Linked DNA regions of Homo sapiens: all the other regions are linked to region 3. Evidence: fine-mapped expression QTL. A gene starts in region 3. Each other region holds a variant in brackets. All regions are shown on one strand. Distances are from middle to middle. Region 1 overlaps BPIFC (BPI fold containing family C). Region 2 has its middle 45 kb from the start of RFPL3. Region 3 holds the start of SLC5A4 (solute carrier family 5 member 4).

Evidence for each region. PIP is the estimated chance that this variant, and not a neighbour inherited with it, causes the effect.
Region 1: its variant is fine-mapped to the expression of SLC5A4 in cerebral cortex (GTEx, PIP 0.97).
Region 2: its variant is fine-mapped to the expression of SLC5A4 in sun-exposed skin (GTEx, PIP 0.94).

The regions. Positions count from the first base shown.
Region 1 is chr22:32,424,427-32,428,778 of GRCh38, forward strand. All of the region lies in intron 13 of BPIFC (BPI fold containing family C), which reads right to left. Among named protein-coding and RNA genes, the nearest start is that of RTCB, 14 kb to the left of the region's middle. The variant C/T (reference allele first, on the strand shown) is at 1,775.
Region 2 is chr22:32,311,181-32,315,180 of GRCh38, forward strand. It overlaps a transcript of SLC5A4 not described here. Among named protein-coding and RNA genes, the nearest start is that of RFPL3, 45 kb to the right of the region's middle. The variant C/T (reference allele first, on the strand shown) is at 1,524.
Region 3 is chr22:32,253,530-32,257,529 of GRCh38, forward strand. It overlaps SLC5A4 (solute carrier family 5 member 4), which reads right to left and starts at 1,818. Exons shown (of 15, transcript NM_014227.3): 1 at 1,666-1,818; 2 at 613-684. The coding sequence starts at 1,800. All of the region lies in intron 2 of SLC5A4-AS1 (SLC5A4 antisense RNA 1), which reads left to right.

The DNA of each region.
Region 1 (4,352 bases), 170 kb after region 3:
CAGTGTTTTCTCTTTCTTTTATCAATGCTGAATATTGAAAAAGGGCATGCTGCCTGTTTCAACTTAGCGTGACTCCATGCTTATGGGTTTCCTCTTCCAGGCAAGGGTATAAAGGTATTTATTTCCTAAATCTTAAGTGTTATTTTCTTTCTTCTTCTTCTTCTTCTTCTTCTTCTCCTCCTCCTCCTCCTCCTCCTCCTCCTCTTCTTCTTCTTCTCTTCTTCTTCTTCTTCTTCTTCTTCTTCTTCTTCTTCTTCTTCTTCTTCCTCTTCTTCTTCCTCTTCTTCTTCCTCTTCTTCTTCCTCTTCTTCTTCCTCTTCTTCTTCCTCTTCTTCTTCTTCTTCTTCTTCTTCTTCTTCTTCCTTTTTTTTTGAGACGGAGTTTTGCTCTTGTCGCCCAGGCTAGAGTGCAGTGGTGTGATCTCGGCTCACTGCAACCTCCGCTTCCTGCATTCAAGCGATTCTCCTGCCTCAGCCTCCAGAGTAGCTGGGATTACAGGCATGCACCACCATGCCCAGCTAATTTTTGTATTATTAGTAGAGATGGAGTTTCACCATGTTGGCCAGGCTGGTCTCGAACTCCTGACCTCAGATGATTCACCTGCCTCGGCCTCCCAAAGTGCTGAGATTATAGGCGTGAGCCACCACGCCTGGCCTTGCCTTATTTTCTAAGTCAAAGCTCTTCACTACATCAAAGGCAGTATACTGTGGTAAGTAAATACTCACTGCTTTGAAAGCGGACTCACCCAGGTTCAAGTTCTGGCTCAGCCATTCAATAGCTCTGTGACCTTCAGTAAGTTATTTAATCTCTACAAACTGTAAAATGGGGATAATAGTACCTACCTCTAGGACCGTTCATTTAATCTACTGACATTTATTGAGCACTGTGCCAGGCCCTGGAGACACAGAGTTGTAAGATTTAAAATGAAATAATAGAGGTGTTGGGCTTGGCACAGGACCTAGTAGATGACAAAGATCCAATAATAAACAATAGCCATGAATTATACAAAAAAGGACTATTTCTTAGCTATCCATGGGCAGGATACAGGGGAGCGAAGTGTATTCTGAATCAGGGGACTCTGGAAATGATCTTGTACGATTGAGCACCTCCTTGTCCTGGCTGAGGCTATCTCTAAATTTGAAATCATAGTCAAAGCCAACAGCTAAGAAATAGTCTTTTTTTGGTACAGTTCATGACTATTCTTTATTATTGGGCCTTTACCGTCTATTAGGTCCCGTGCCAAGCCCGGTGCCTCTGTCATTTCATTTAAACCTTACAACTCCGTGTCTCCAGGGCCTGGAACAGTGCACAATAATGGTCAATAGATTAAATGAATGGTCCTGGAGGTAGGTACTATTATTCCCGTTTTATGCTTTATGGAGATTAAATAACTTACACCCAAGATCACAGAGCTATTGAATGGCAACCACACACTTTACCTGTATTAACTCTCATACTTCTCACAACCTTCTCCTGAAGTAGTCTTTATTACACCATTTTACAGAGGAGGAAATGGAGTCCAAGAGAGGTTAAGAAACTCGCCTGAGATGCCAGAGCTAATTAGTGGCAGCACTGGGATCAGAACCAGACCAGCTAGTCTGACTCCAAAGCCTGTGATCCTACAGTCTGTCTAGACCACCAACACGGGGTTTGTCTCTGATTTCTGTATTTGCTGTCTATGCAGCCAGCCCCGAGCAGCTCCAGGAAGAGGCACATTCAGGCAGGGGATAGTTAGAGAGGCCATGTTGTTCTGGGGAGAGTAATTTGGAGCCCC[C/T]GTGTTCCCTGGTTCTTCTCAGGGATGTTCCACTGATCTCCACCCACTTGATCCTTTTCCTGCTGCATCTCTCTGATATCACCCAAGACCAAACCAGCTCATCTTGAAAAGCCTGGGGAGCCCAGGAGTGGAGGAGCCAGCTGGGGCAGCCTGCATGGGAGGCAGGGCTAGGGATCCTACTGCCAGAGCCCAGGGCTGTCATTTCAACACAGCCTTGGCTCCTCTGCAAAGTCTTGCCTCCTGGTTTGGCTGCTTTAAACCTGAGTGAGGCCCAGCCCACCTGCCTTGCCCCCAGCCTGCTCACTGCCTGAGGTTTGCTATAACACCCCATGCAGGAGACACCCTCACTTGTGCTTAGAAGCCCCCTGTGCTTGGTTTAATGCCTTGCCATCTCTATCTTAAAATTCTTGACCAGGCACGGTGGCTCACGCCTGTAATCCCAGCACTTTGGGAGGCCGAGGCGGGTGGATCACCTGAGGTCAGGAGTTCGAGACCAGCCTGGCCAACATGGCGAAACCCCGTCTCTACTAAAAATACAAAAATCAGCCATGTGTGGTGGCACACGCCTGTAATCCCAGCTACCCAGGAGGCTGAGGCAGGAGGATCACTGGAACCCGGGGTGCAGAAGCTCCAGTGAACCAAGATCGTGCCACTGCACTCCAGCCCTGGCAACAGAGCAAGACTCTGTCTGAAAAAAAAAAAAGAAAGAAAGAAAAAAGAAATTCTTAATCCTTTTGAAAAGAGGCTCTGCATTTTCATTTTGCAGTGGGCCCTGCAAATTATGTAGCCAGCCCTGCTCAGACCCAGCTAAGGCATCAGAGCACCAGAAGTCTGCCCAGCGGAGAATTTCCAGGAGACTGCTGGGCAACAGACAACAAGCCAGAGGTCCTAATTTCAGGGTTCATGTTCATGAGGTCAAAGAACTCTGTGGACTGTAGGAAGCCAAGAGAATGAATTCACACATTTCCGGGATGATGTAAATTTATCGGCTTAAAACAGTTTTTTCTATTACTCCCATAAATAAACATAACAGCCATTGAACGTGCTGTTGCTTACTAGTATTATAGAAACATTAGAGATAAGGCTCAGTTTGATTTAAGCAGAAAAGTGAACCTGGTCTCCATGCTTCTTAAAGTCTTTTGCACCTTCTTGCCACAACCCTGAAGTTGAATCATGATTAAATTCTTCCTTGAGATCCTGCCAGTAAACCAGACACCTGCTCAGATGCAAGTGTTGTTTCTACCTTCTCTAGGAACCTTCTGCCTCAGTTAGCAGCCCTGCCCCTGTGCCCCGCCCCGCATCACTCCCCATTTCCAGCCTTTCCTTTCCTCCTGGTTCTTTCCTCTTTGTTTCCCAACAGACTGAGCATCACGGTCCCGATGCTCAGGCAATGCTATCCAGATTCTCTCCTTCCTTCCGCTCGTGGCCGATCTCAGATGCTGCCAATTTCTCACCTTTGGTTCCTTCCCCCCTCACCCTCATGCTCTCTGGCTTTCATCCTCTGTATTAGAACTGCCAAATATCACACCTGTAATCCCAGCACTTTGGGAGGCCAAGGTGGGTTGATCACGAGGTCAAAAGATCAAGACCATCCTGGCCAACATGGTGAAACCCCGTCTCTACTAAAACTACAAAAATTAGCTGGGCGTGGTGGCGTGCGCCTGTAGTCCCACCTGCTCAGGAGGCTGAGGCAGGAGAATCACTTGAACCTGGGAGGCAGAGGTTGCAGTAAGCCCAGATCGTGCCACTGCACTCCAGCCTGGGTGACAGAGCGAGATTCTGTCTCAAAACAAAACAGAACAAAACAAAACAAAAAAGAACTGCCAGATAAAGATCACTCTTCATGGTTCAGAGTTTCATCAGCCTGATTCCCTGGAAATGGGGTCACCTCATGACTTCTGGAGGCCTGAGGCACTTTTGTCTTTGGGGACCTTTCTTCTGTTAAAAAAAATGAAAATTATATTTTATAACTATTTGATATAAAGATAAGTATGATCAAGTCTAAATTGTATTCATTTTTAAAAATTATTATTTTAAAATACATTAAAACGTGTGTGTGTGTGTGTGTGCGCGCGCGTGTGTGTGTGTGTGTGTGCTTTTGGACAGGGTCTTGCTCTGTCGCCCAGATTGAGATCATAGCTCACTGCAGCCTCGACTTCTTGGGCTCAGGCAATCCATTCACCTTGGCCTCCCAAAGTGCTGGGATTACAGGTGTGTGCCACCCTGCCCGGCCTCTCATGGGCTTTTAAAGTATTGTGGCTCTAGGCACTGTGCCTATTGTGCCTAAAGGAAGCTAATGAAGAAGTCAGGACTGCTTTGAAGGGCTTGGTAAATGCGAGTAAACCTTCGTAAAACCTTTTCTTTCTGGGAAACCATACTACTTTAAACAAACAAACAAACAAACAAAACATTGTATTTCTGGGCATGGTGGCTCACGCCTGTAATCCCAGCACTTTGGGAGGCCGAGGCCCCAGATCGCCTGAGGTCAGGAGTTTGAGACCAGCCTGGCCAACATGGTGAAACCCCATCTCTACTAAAAAATACAAAAATTAGCCAGGTGTGGTGGCAGGCGCCTGTA
Region 2 (4,000 bases), 58 kb after region 3:
GAACACTCGCCGCCCTTGCCACCTTCACTGTATTCCCGCCCCAGCTAGAAAGCCAGCACAGTGAGCAGGGACCTGCCTTGCTCACTGTTGTGTCTGGTGAATGGATGGGCAGTCAGTGTGAGAACACTAGGTCTGATGAAATGAGGAAACTGGGTCAGAGGACACACATGTTTATTAAGCAGGGCCTCCTGAGCTAAGAACTGGGGGAGATTTGGTATCACTAACACCCATGGAATGAGTGTGTCTACACTGGCAGCGTGGCCTTTGGAGATGTTTGTGATCATTTAGGTGATGCCATCCATCTCATAGGTGCCCCGGGGCAGGAGTGGAGGTGATTAGCTCTGTGGGTGGATGTTACGGGCATCTAGGCTTATGTGGAAGTCCCAATTCAAAGCGGGTGGATTTCTAGAACCCTCCTCTCTGGGTTTCCATAGCCTCGTTACCCTGCCCAGCAAAGATCCATGTGTCTGTGTCTCCCACCAGATGGGAGGCTCCCCAGGGGCAGAGATGAGGTCTGACTCATCTTCTGTCCCCATCACTGCCCAGCATGGGGCCTGGCGCACAGCAGGTGCTTAGCCAGAATGTGCTGAGTGGATCAGCGCTCTCGGCGGTGATGGTGGAGAACTCAGGGCGACAGCCTGTGGAGGCATCAAGGAGATGCTCCTGGCATTGTGCAGGGTGTGCCCTGGCTGGGGATCACGTCATGTCCAGGGAGTTGGAGCCTGGACTTTGGGTTCCTGCACCCCTGAGGTCAAACGAGGGGTTGGTCTCCTCCTGGCCATGTGGCGCCTGGGCACCCCCCTTCCCCACTGTGAGCTTTTTCTGCAGCTTTTTCTGCAGGGGGTTAATCATACCTGCCTCCCACGTGGTGAGAGGGAGAGTGCATGAAAACACTTAACTTGGTACCTGCCCTGTGGTCAGCCTGAGATGCGTCCCTGAGTATTTTTGTTACAGGAATGAATTCTGTAAGAACCAACCCTGACTGGCATTTTCAAATCCCCAGTGCTCCCTGAGACACAGAGGGGCTGTACCCTGTGCTTAGCAAGAAGCTTGCAGCCTGAACATTGACACGGATGAGAACCCCCAGCCAGAAGGTAACCCGCGCCCATCAGAGAACTTGAGGGGGGAAGCCCCAATAAAAACCAACCAACCAAACAAGAACACCCCAAATCACACGCGCGCGCGCACACACACACACACACACACGCACATTCAATATTCTGACACAAATAGCCCCAAGGGGCCGCTATTGGAGGGAGCAGGGGCAAGGGAAGCTTCGGTTTTCAACCACAGGTATAACTCACAGGCCTCAATCCTCCTGGCTGGAATCAGCCAGAGTTGCTTTGTCTTGGTCATCCTGAGGCCACAATGAGTCACCTCTCAGAAGCCACCAGCCCAAAACAGGACTATCGCTTGTGGACAGGTGGCTCAGAATCCCCTCCCCTGCACCCCCAGCCCCTACCCCTGAGTTTGCTCGTAATCTTAGAAGTCCGCAGAAGGGGGCTTTGGGCACAGGCAGCATT[C/T]CCTTCTCTACCACCTCGGCTGTCCCTGGCATCTCTGTAGAAGTTGTCCTTCTCGGAGGCTGCACTGGGTATTTCAGATCTCATCTCCCCCATCCTGAGGCACAGCAAAAGGGTTTTCTGGAGGAAATACAAGGAAAAAAAATATCACATGGTGTCTCCTCAATGGGGACTCACTGGGGACATTTCTCTCTGGCCTCAGTGCCAGAAGAATCCAGGTTTCCTCTGAACACATGGGTTTTGTCTTCTGAACGTTGTGAACCATGTGACTTTAAGACTGGAAGCGAGACAAAAATGTCGCTATCATTATAGCTCCATATAGTACTAGAGCTCTGGCTCATGCAATAAGGCAAGAAAAAAAAGCATAGACTAGGACTGGAATAGAAGAACCAAAATTACAGTTAATTGTGGATAACTTACATAGAAAATTTAATAGAATCAACAGGTTAATTAGTAGAATGGAGAGTGCATACATAGAGGTATAATAGTCAACCTGTAAGACATCAGATCAATTTATAAAATGCAACAGTGTGCATTGACCTCAGCAGTTACTAGGGTAATTATATGTCATGGCTTGGGACAGTCTCAGTTGACACTTGTTGTTCTGACATAATTTTTAATGTTGTTCCCCTTTTACCCTCAAAAGTATTCTGATTTGGATGATAAATTATACTGTCACCCTTGCTATAACAAACTAAATATTAAACACAGATACAGATACCATTCATACTGACAAAAACGATCCTGTATTTTGGAATGACACTAAGATATGACCATGACCATGTCATACAAAGCTATAGAGAAGATACCAAGATGCTCCTGGAATAGGGAAGAGCCAGGAGAGCAGTGGAACAAGATCTACAGTGTGGAAACAGGTCTGCTGGGCACTTATAGCTTTGAATGGCAGAGTCAAGTTGCAAACAAGACAATGAGGAAAAGAAATACAAACTCCATCTGTGGCAGGCAGCATGAACCCCACTGCCCTGTGTCTATTACAAGAGCAATTGCCCAGCCACAACTACTTACCTTCCCAGACTCCCTTGCAAGCAGGGGTGGTCACATGACCCAGTCTGGCCAATGTCATGTAAGTGGGAGTCTATTGGGAAGGGGACATAAATCCAGGGGAAGATGAACTATCTTGCATGCATGAGAATGAAGGATGCTCACTAACACAGGTGGAGTAGAAGGCAGGGAGAAACTGGGTTCTGGTGGCAGCCCTGGACTGCCCCCTCCACACCACTGCAGTCAAATTTCCTTTACTTGCATAAATTGCAACTGGTGACAGTTCTTAACTGATAAACCATCTTCAACCAAACTACATGTTTTTTGGGCAAATGGAGAAGTCAAGGGAGTGGCTCCGACAAAGCCAGCAAAGCCCACCTCCCCAGAGTGAGAGATACGCCAAGAAGGAGAACCTACTCTCCACTCTTTGCATCAGTGGGAATGTGTACAGGGGCTAAGGGTGAGAGATTCCGTGGGGCCATCTCCTCAGCTTCACAGAACAAAGCCAGGTACTCTCCATCACCGACTTTTTTTTCTCCATAGCACACACCTCTATCCAGCATACCACCTATTGTACTTACTTGAATAATTTATTGTTTGTCTTCCCCACATAGAAAGTTAGCTACAAGAGGGTTAAGGTGATTGTGTGTTTTACACATTGCTGCATTGCCAGGGCCTAGGACAGTAACTGGCATACTGTAGGGGCTTAATAATGTTTATCAAATAAATGAATGAACCAAGAATTTAAAGCCCAATGAACCATCTTTCAAATATAAAGTCAACAGAAAAACATGTTGAACATATTTTTGAATTATAGTTCCCATGACCCCTTCTTAAAAAAATTAAGGACACCCTTAGGCAAATCAAGAATGATTCAGAAAAGTTTAATGTAAAAGGATGGGCAGATGATTTTTTTAAAAGTTCTGTGGATAGATGGCAGTGATGGCTGCTGTATTAATCCATTTTCATGCTGCTGATAAAGACATACCCAAGCAATTTACAAAAGAAAGAGGCTTAACTGGACTTACAGTTCCACATGGCTGGGGAGGCCTCACAATCATGGTGAAAGGCAAGGAGGAGCAAGTCACGTCTTATGTGGATGGTGGCAGGCAAAGGGACAGAGAGAGTGAGCGAGCTTGTGCAGGAAAATTCCCATCAGACCTCATGAAATTTATTCACTATCATGAAAACAGCATGGGAAAGACTTGCCCCCATGATTCAATTACCTCCCACTGGGTTCCTCCCATGACACATGGGAATTGTGGGAGTTACAATTCAAGATGAGCTTTGGGTACAGCCACAGCCAAACCATATCAGTTGCCCTACAGTGAGAAGGTACTTAATGCCCCTGAACTGTATACTTAAAAATGGTTAAAATGGTTATATGTTATGTGCATTCTACCACAATTCATAAAAAGGATGAGCAGAAGCATAACAAATGCAAATGAAGAGAAATCAGGGGTCAAGTTGTAAATGGA
Region 3 (4,000 bases):
AGCAGGAATGCGCAGAGCTTGTAAGAAGCCAGGAGAAGACTCTTGATAAGGAGCAGAAGAAAAGAATATAAGGTGGGGCTGAGCTGGGGTCCTTCAGTGCCAGACTGAACCGGCTGTCATAATAGGTGACATATTGTAATGTCCTGGAATTACAGAGAGGAGCCATGAAGTCGGGGATTTAGGAAAGGAGCCCCAGCGAGTAGGCAACCAATGTACATCAGAAATGATCAACATTCCCAATGTTGTCTACATTCACTTTTTTTTTTTTGAGATGGAGTTTCATTCTTGTTGCCCAGGCTGGAGTGCAGTGGTGTGATCTAGGCTCACTGCAACCTCTGCCTCCCAGGTTCAAGTGATTATCCTGCCTCAGCCTCCTGAGTAGCTGGGATTACAGGCATACACACCACCACGTCCAGCTAATTTTTGTATTTTTAGTAGAGATGGTTTCACCATGTTAGTCAGGCTGGTCTCGAACTCCTGACCTCAGATGATCTGCCAGCCTTGGCCTCCCAAAGTGCTGGGATTACAGGCGTGAGACACCGCACCCAGCCTACATTCAGTTTTAAGCACACACACAGGAAATTTATCTCCAGAAAACTTCGATCCACTTACCGGCCACCAGGCCATATCACGACCAGCGAGGAAGAAGCCTCCTATAGTACCTCGGTTGGTCTTCAGCATCGCCTGAGCAGAAGGGAAGACAGGTGAGGGTCAAGCCCCAGCAAGTGCACCCAGACACCCCAGAGGCTCTGGCCAGGGTGCTGAGAGGGGTGACTTCAGCACTCCTACAGAGAGAAACATTTCGCTGGAAAGTGTTCTATAGCATCAAATTTTAAAGGACTTCAAAAACAGTCGCTTTGTAAAAACCCAGGGCTGGAAGAACTTAAAAAAATCATAATCCTTAACTTCTATCTTAACTGCTCTGATTATTCTCACTTATGAAAACCATGTGAGGTATCATTGAGCCATGCTTGCAATAAAATTTGCAGTCTCGGCCGGGCACGGTGGCTCACGCCTGTAATTCCAGCACTTTGGAGGGCCGAGGCGGGTGGATCACAAGGTCAAGAGATCGAGACCATCCTGGCCAACATGGTGAAACCCCGTCTCTACTAAAAATACAAAAAGTTAGCCGGGCGTGGTGGCGCATGCCTGTAGTCCCAGCTACTTGGGAGGCTGAGGCAGGAGAATGGCGTGAACCCAGGAGGCGGAGCTTGCAGTGAGCCAAGCAAGCGCCACTGCACTCCAGCCTGGACGACAGAGCAAGACTCCGTCTCAAAAAAAAAAAAAATTTGCAGTCTCAAATTTATTAAAATAAAAAAATTCAACATAAATGAAGAGTCCAACTCACTAAATCAGAAAGTGAGCAAACAACAAAAGAAAGCGAAAGAAATGCGATAATAAAAATACACTCTTTGTCCATTATGCCAGGTGTTGGGGATGCATAGTAAATCTGAAGGTCCCGGTGCTGGCTGTGTGCACACGATGGGGTTATTAGGAGAATACATTAGTTCATTGTAAGCGTTATTTATGCAACACACAAGAAAATGATTCTGATAACACAATGACATTTGTGAAAAGCTTTGTCACAACCACACCCCTTCCCCCCTTAAGATACCCCCTCCTAAACCTTGTGCCCACCCTAAAAGCCACTGGGATTCCACCTACCCACAGCCCAACAGCCATCACCACCAGAAAATAGATGACAATGACTGAGATGTCAGCAGCATTTCGGATGTGGTCAGACAATGGAGGTGGCTCTGGGGTCTCAGCTATGGTGCTGGGGCTAACCGTACTGGCCATGGCTGCAGGCAGTGCTATACCCATTCCACGCATGAGCCATCTTTATATAAGTTCTGGGTTAATGATCAGCCTCAGGCAGGTGGGGCGAGATATCAGAGCCAGCTCCTGGATATGGAGACCTTTAAACCTCTTCTCCAAAGCTGTGGCACCCCAGCCCTCCACCAGTGAGTGCTAGCCTAGGTAGAGTGTGAGAATGAGGGATGCAGGGCCAGAAATGAGGGGAGAATTTGAGGTGGAGCATGGGGCGTTCTCTGAGTGCAAAGACAGGGTCTTTAAAGAGATTTGCCCAGGTGGAGGGGGGATTTGAGAGAAATGAAGACAGACAAGGAGGGGAGAAGGACAGACTAGAAGGTACCAGAAACCAGCCAGGAGGGACCGAATGCAATGGTCCTTCAGAGAACAGATACAGTTTCTGACCAATGAGCTATATCCCTTGACAGTGAAGTGAATTATGCCTTTCGTGGATTCCAAAGTCCCACATTTCTCTGAAGTGGGTTTCATGTGCCACAAAAAGACATTGGTGGCCTGTATAGGAAAGGAAGTGGCTCTTCAAGCACCATATGTGGTGAGTTGAGGGCAGAGCTGTGGAGAGCGCTGGGTCAGAGGGTTGTACAAAGAGTGAATCAACCTGGAAGCATGTGATGGGGATCATGAGGACTCAGGAAACAAGACTCCTGGACTACAGCCAAGAAGAAGTTAGAAGTAAAGCCTATGCGGTGGCTGACACCTGTAATCCCAGCACTTTGGGAGGCCAAGGAGAGAGCATCACTTGAGGCCAGGAGTTCAAGACCAGCTTGGGCAACATAGGGAGTCTTTGTCTCTATAAAAATTAGCTGAGTGTGGTGATGCACACGTATGGTCCCAGCTACTTGGGAGGCTGAAGAGGGAGGATCACCTGTGACTGGGAGGTCAAAGCTATAGTGAGCCATGATCACGCCGCTGCACTCTAGCCTGGGCAACTGAGCAAGATCCTGTCTCAAAAACAAACAAAAAAAACAACAACAAAAAAACAAAACCAAAAACACACATGAAAAAACGGAAAGCCCAGAAATTCTTCTTTTATACTTCATTTTTTATTGTGGCAAAGCATACATAGCATAAAATTTACCATTTTAATCCCTTTTAAGTGTACAATTCATTGGCATTAAGTACATTTACAGTGTTATGCAGCCATTACCACTATCCATTTCCAGAACTTTTTCATCATCTCCAAACAGAAGTATGTACCCACTAAAAACTAACTCCCCATCCCTCCCTCTCTCCAGGCCCTGGTAACCTCTGTTATTCTTTCTTACTATATAAATTTGCCTATTCTAGGTACCTCATACAAATGAAATCATACAATATTTTCCTCTTTGGTTTATTTCACTTAGTATGACATTTTCAAGGTTCATCCATATTGTAGCATGTATCAGAATTTCCTTCCTTTTTAAGGCTGAATAATATTCCAATACTCATATATACCACATTTTGTTTATCCATTCAACTGTTGATGGGCATTCAGGTTCTTTCTATACTTGGCTATTATAAATAATGCTGCTGAGAACACTGGTGTGCAAGGATCTGTTTGAATCCCTACTTTCAATTCTTTTGAGTCTATATGTAGAAGTGGAATTGCATGTGATAATTCTGTGTTTAACTTTTTGTAGAACTGCCAAACTGTTGTTCACAGCAGCTGCACTATTTTACATTCTTTCCACAGTGCATAGGAGAGTTAATTTCTCCATATCCTCTTCAATACTTGTCATTTATGTTTTAATTATAGACAGGCTAGTAGGTATCAAGTGGGTATCACAATATAGTTTTGATTTACACTTCTAACACAATCACTAGTAGTGTTGATTTTTTCATGTGCTTATAGCCATTTGTGCATCTTCTTGGAGAGAGATATATTCAACTTCTTCATCCATTTAAAAATTATGTTGTATTCTTTTTTACACTGCTCCTTGTGGAGCAGGACTACCTCATTGGCAGTGTACCCAGAATAGCCTTATGTTGTATTTTTGTTGCTGTTGAATTGTAGAATTTCCTTTTTATTTCTCAGAGACAGGGTCTCATTCTGTCACCCAGGCTGGAGTGCAGTGAGGTAAGCATGGCTCAGTGCAGCCTCAACCTCCTGGGCTCAAGTGATCCTCCCATCTCAGCCTCCACCATAGCTGGGACCACAGGCACATGCCACCCATGCCTGGCTAACTTCATT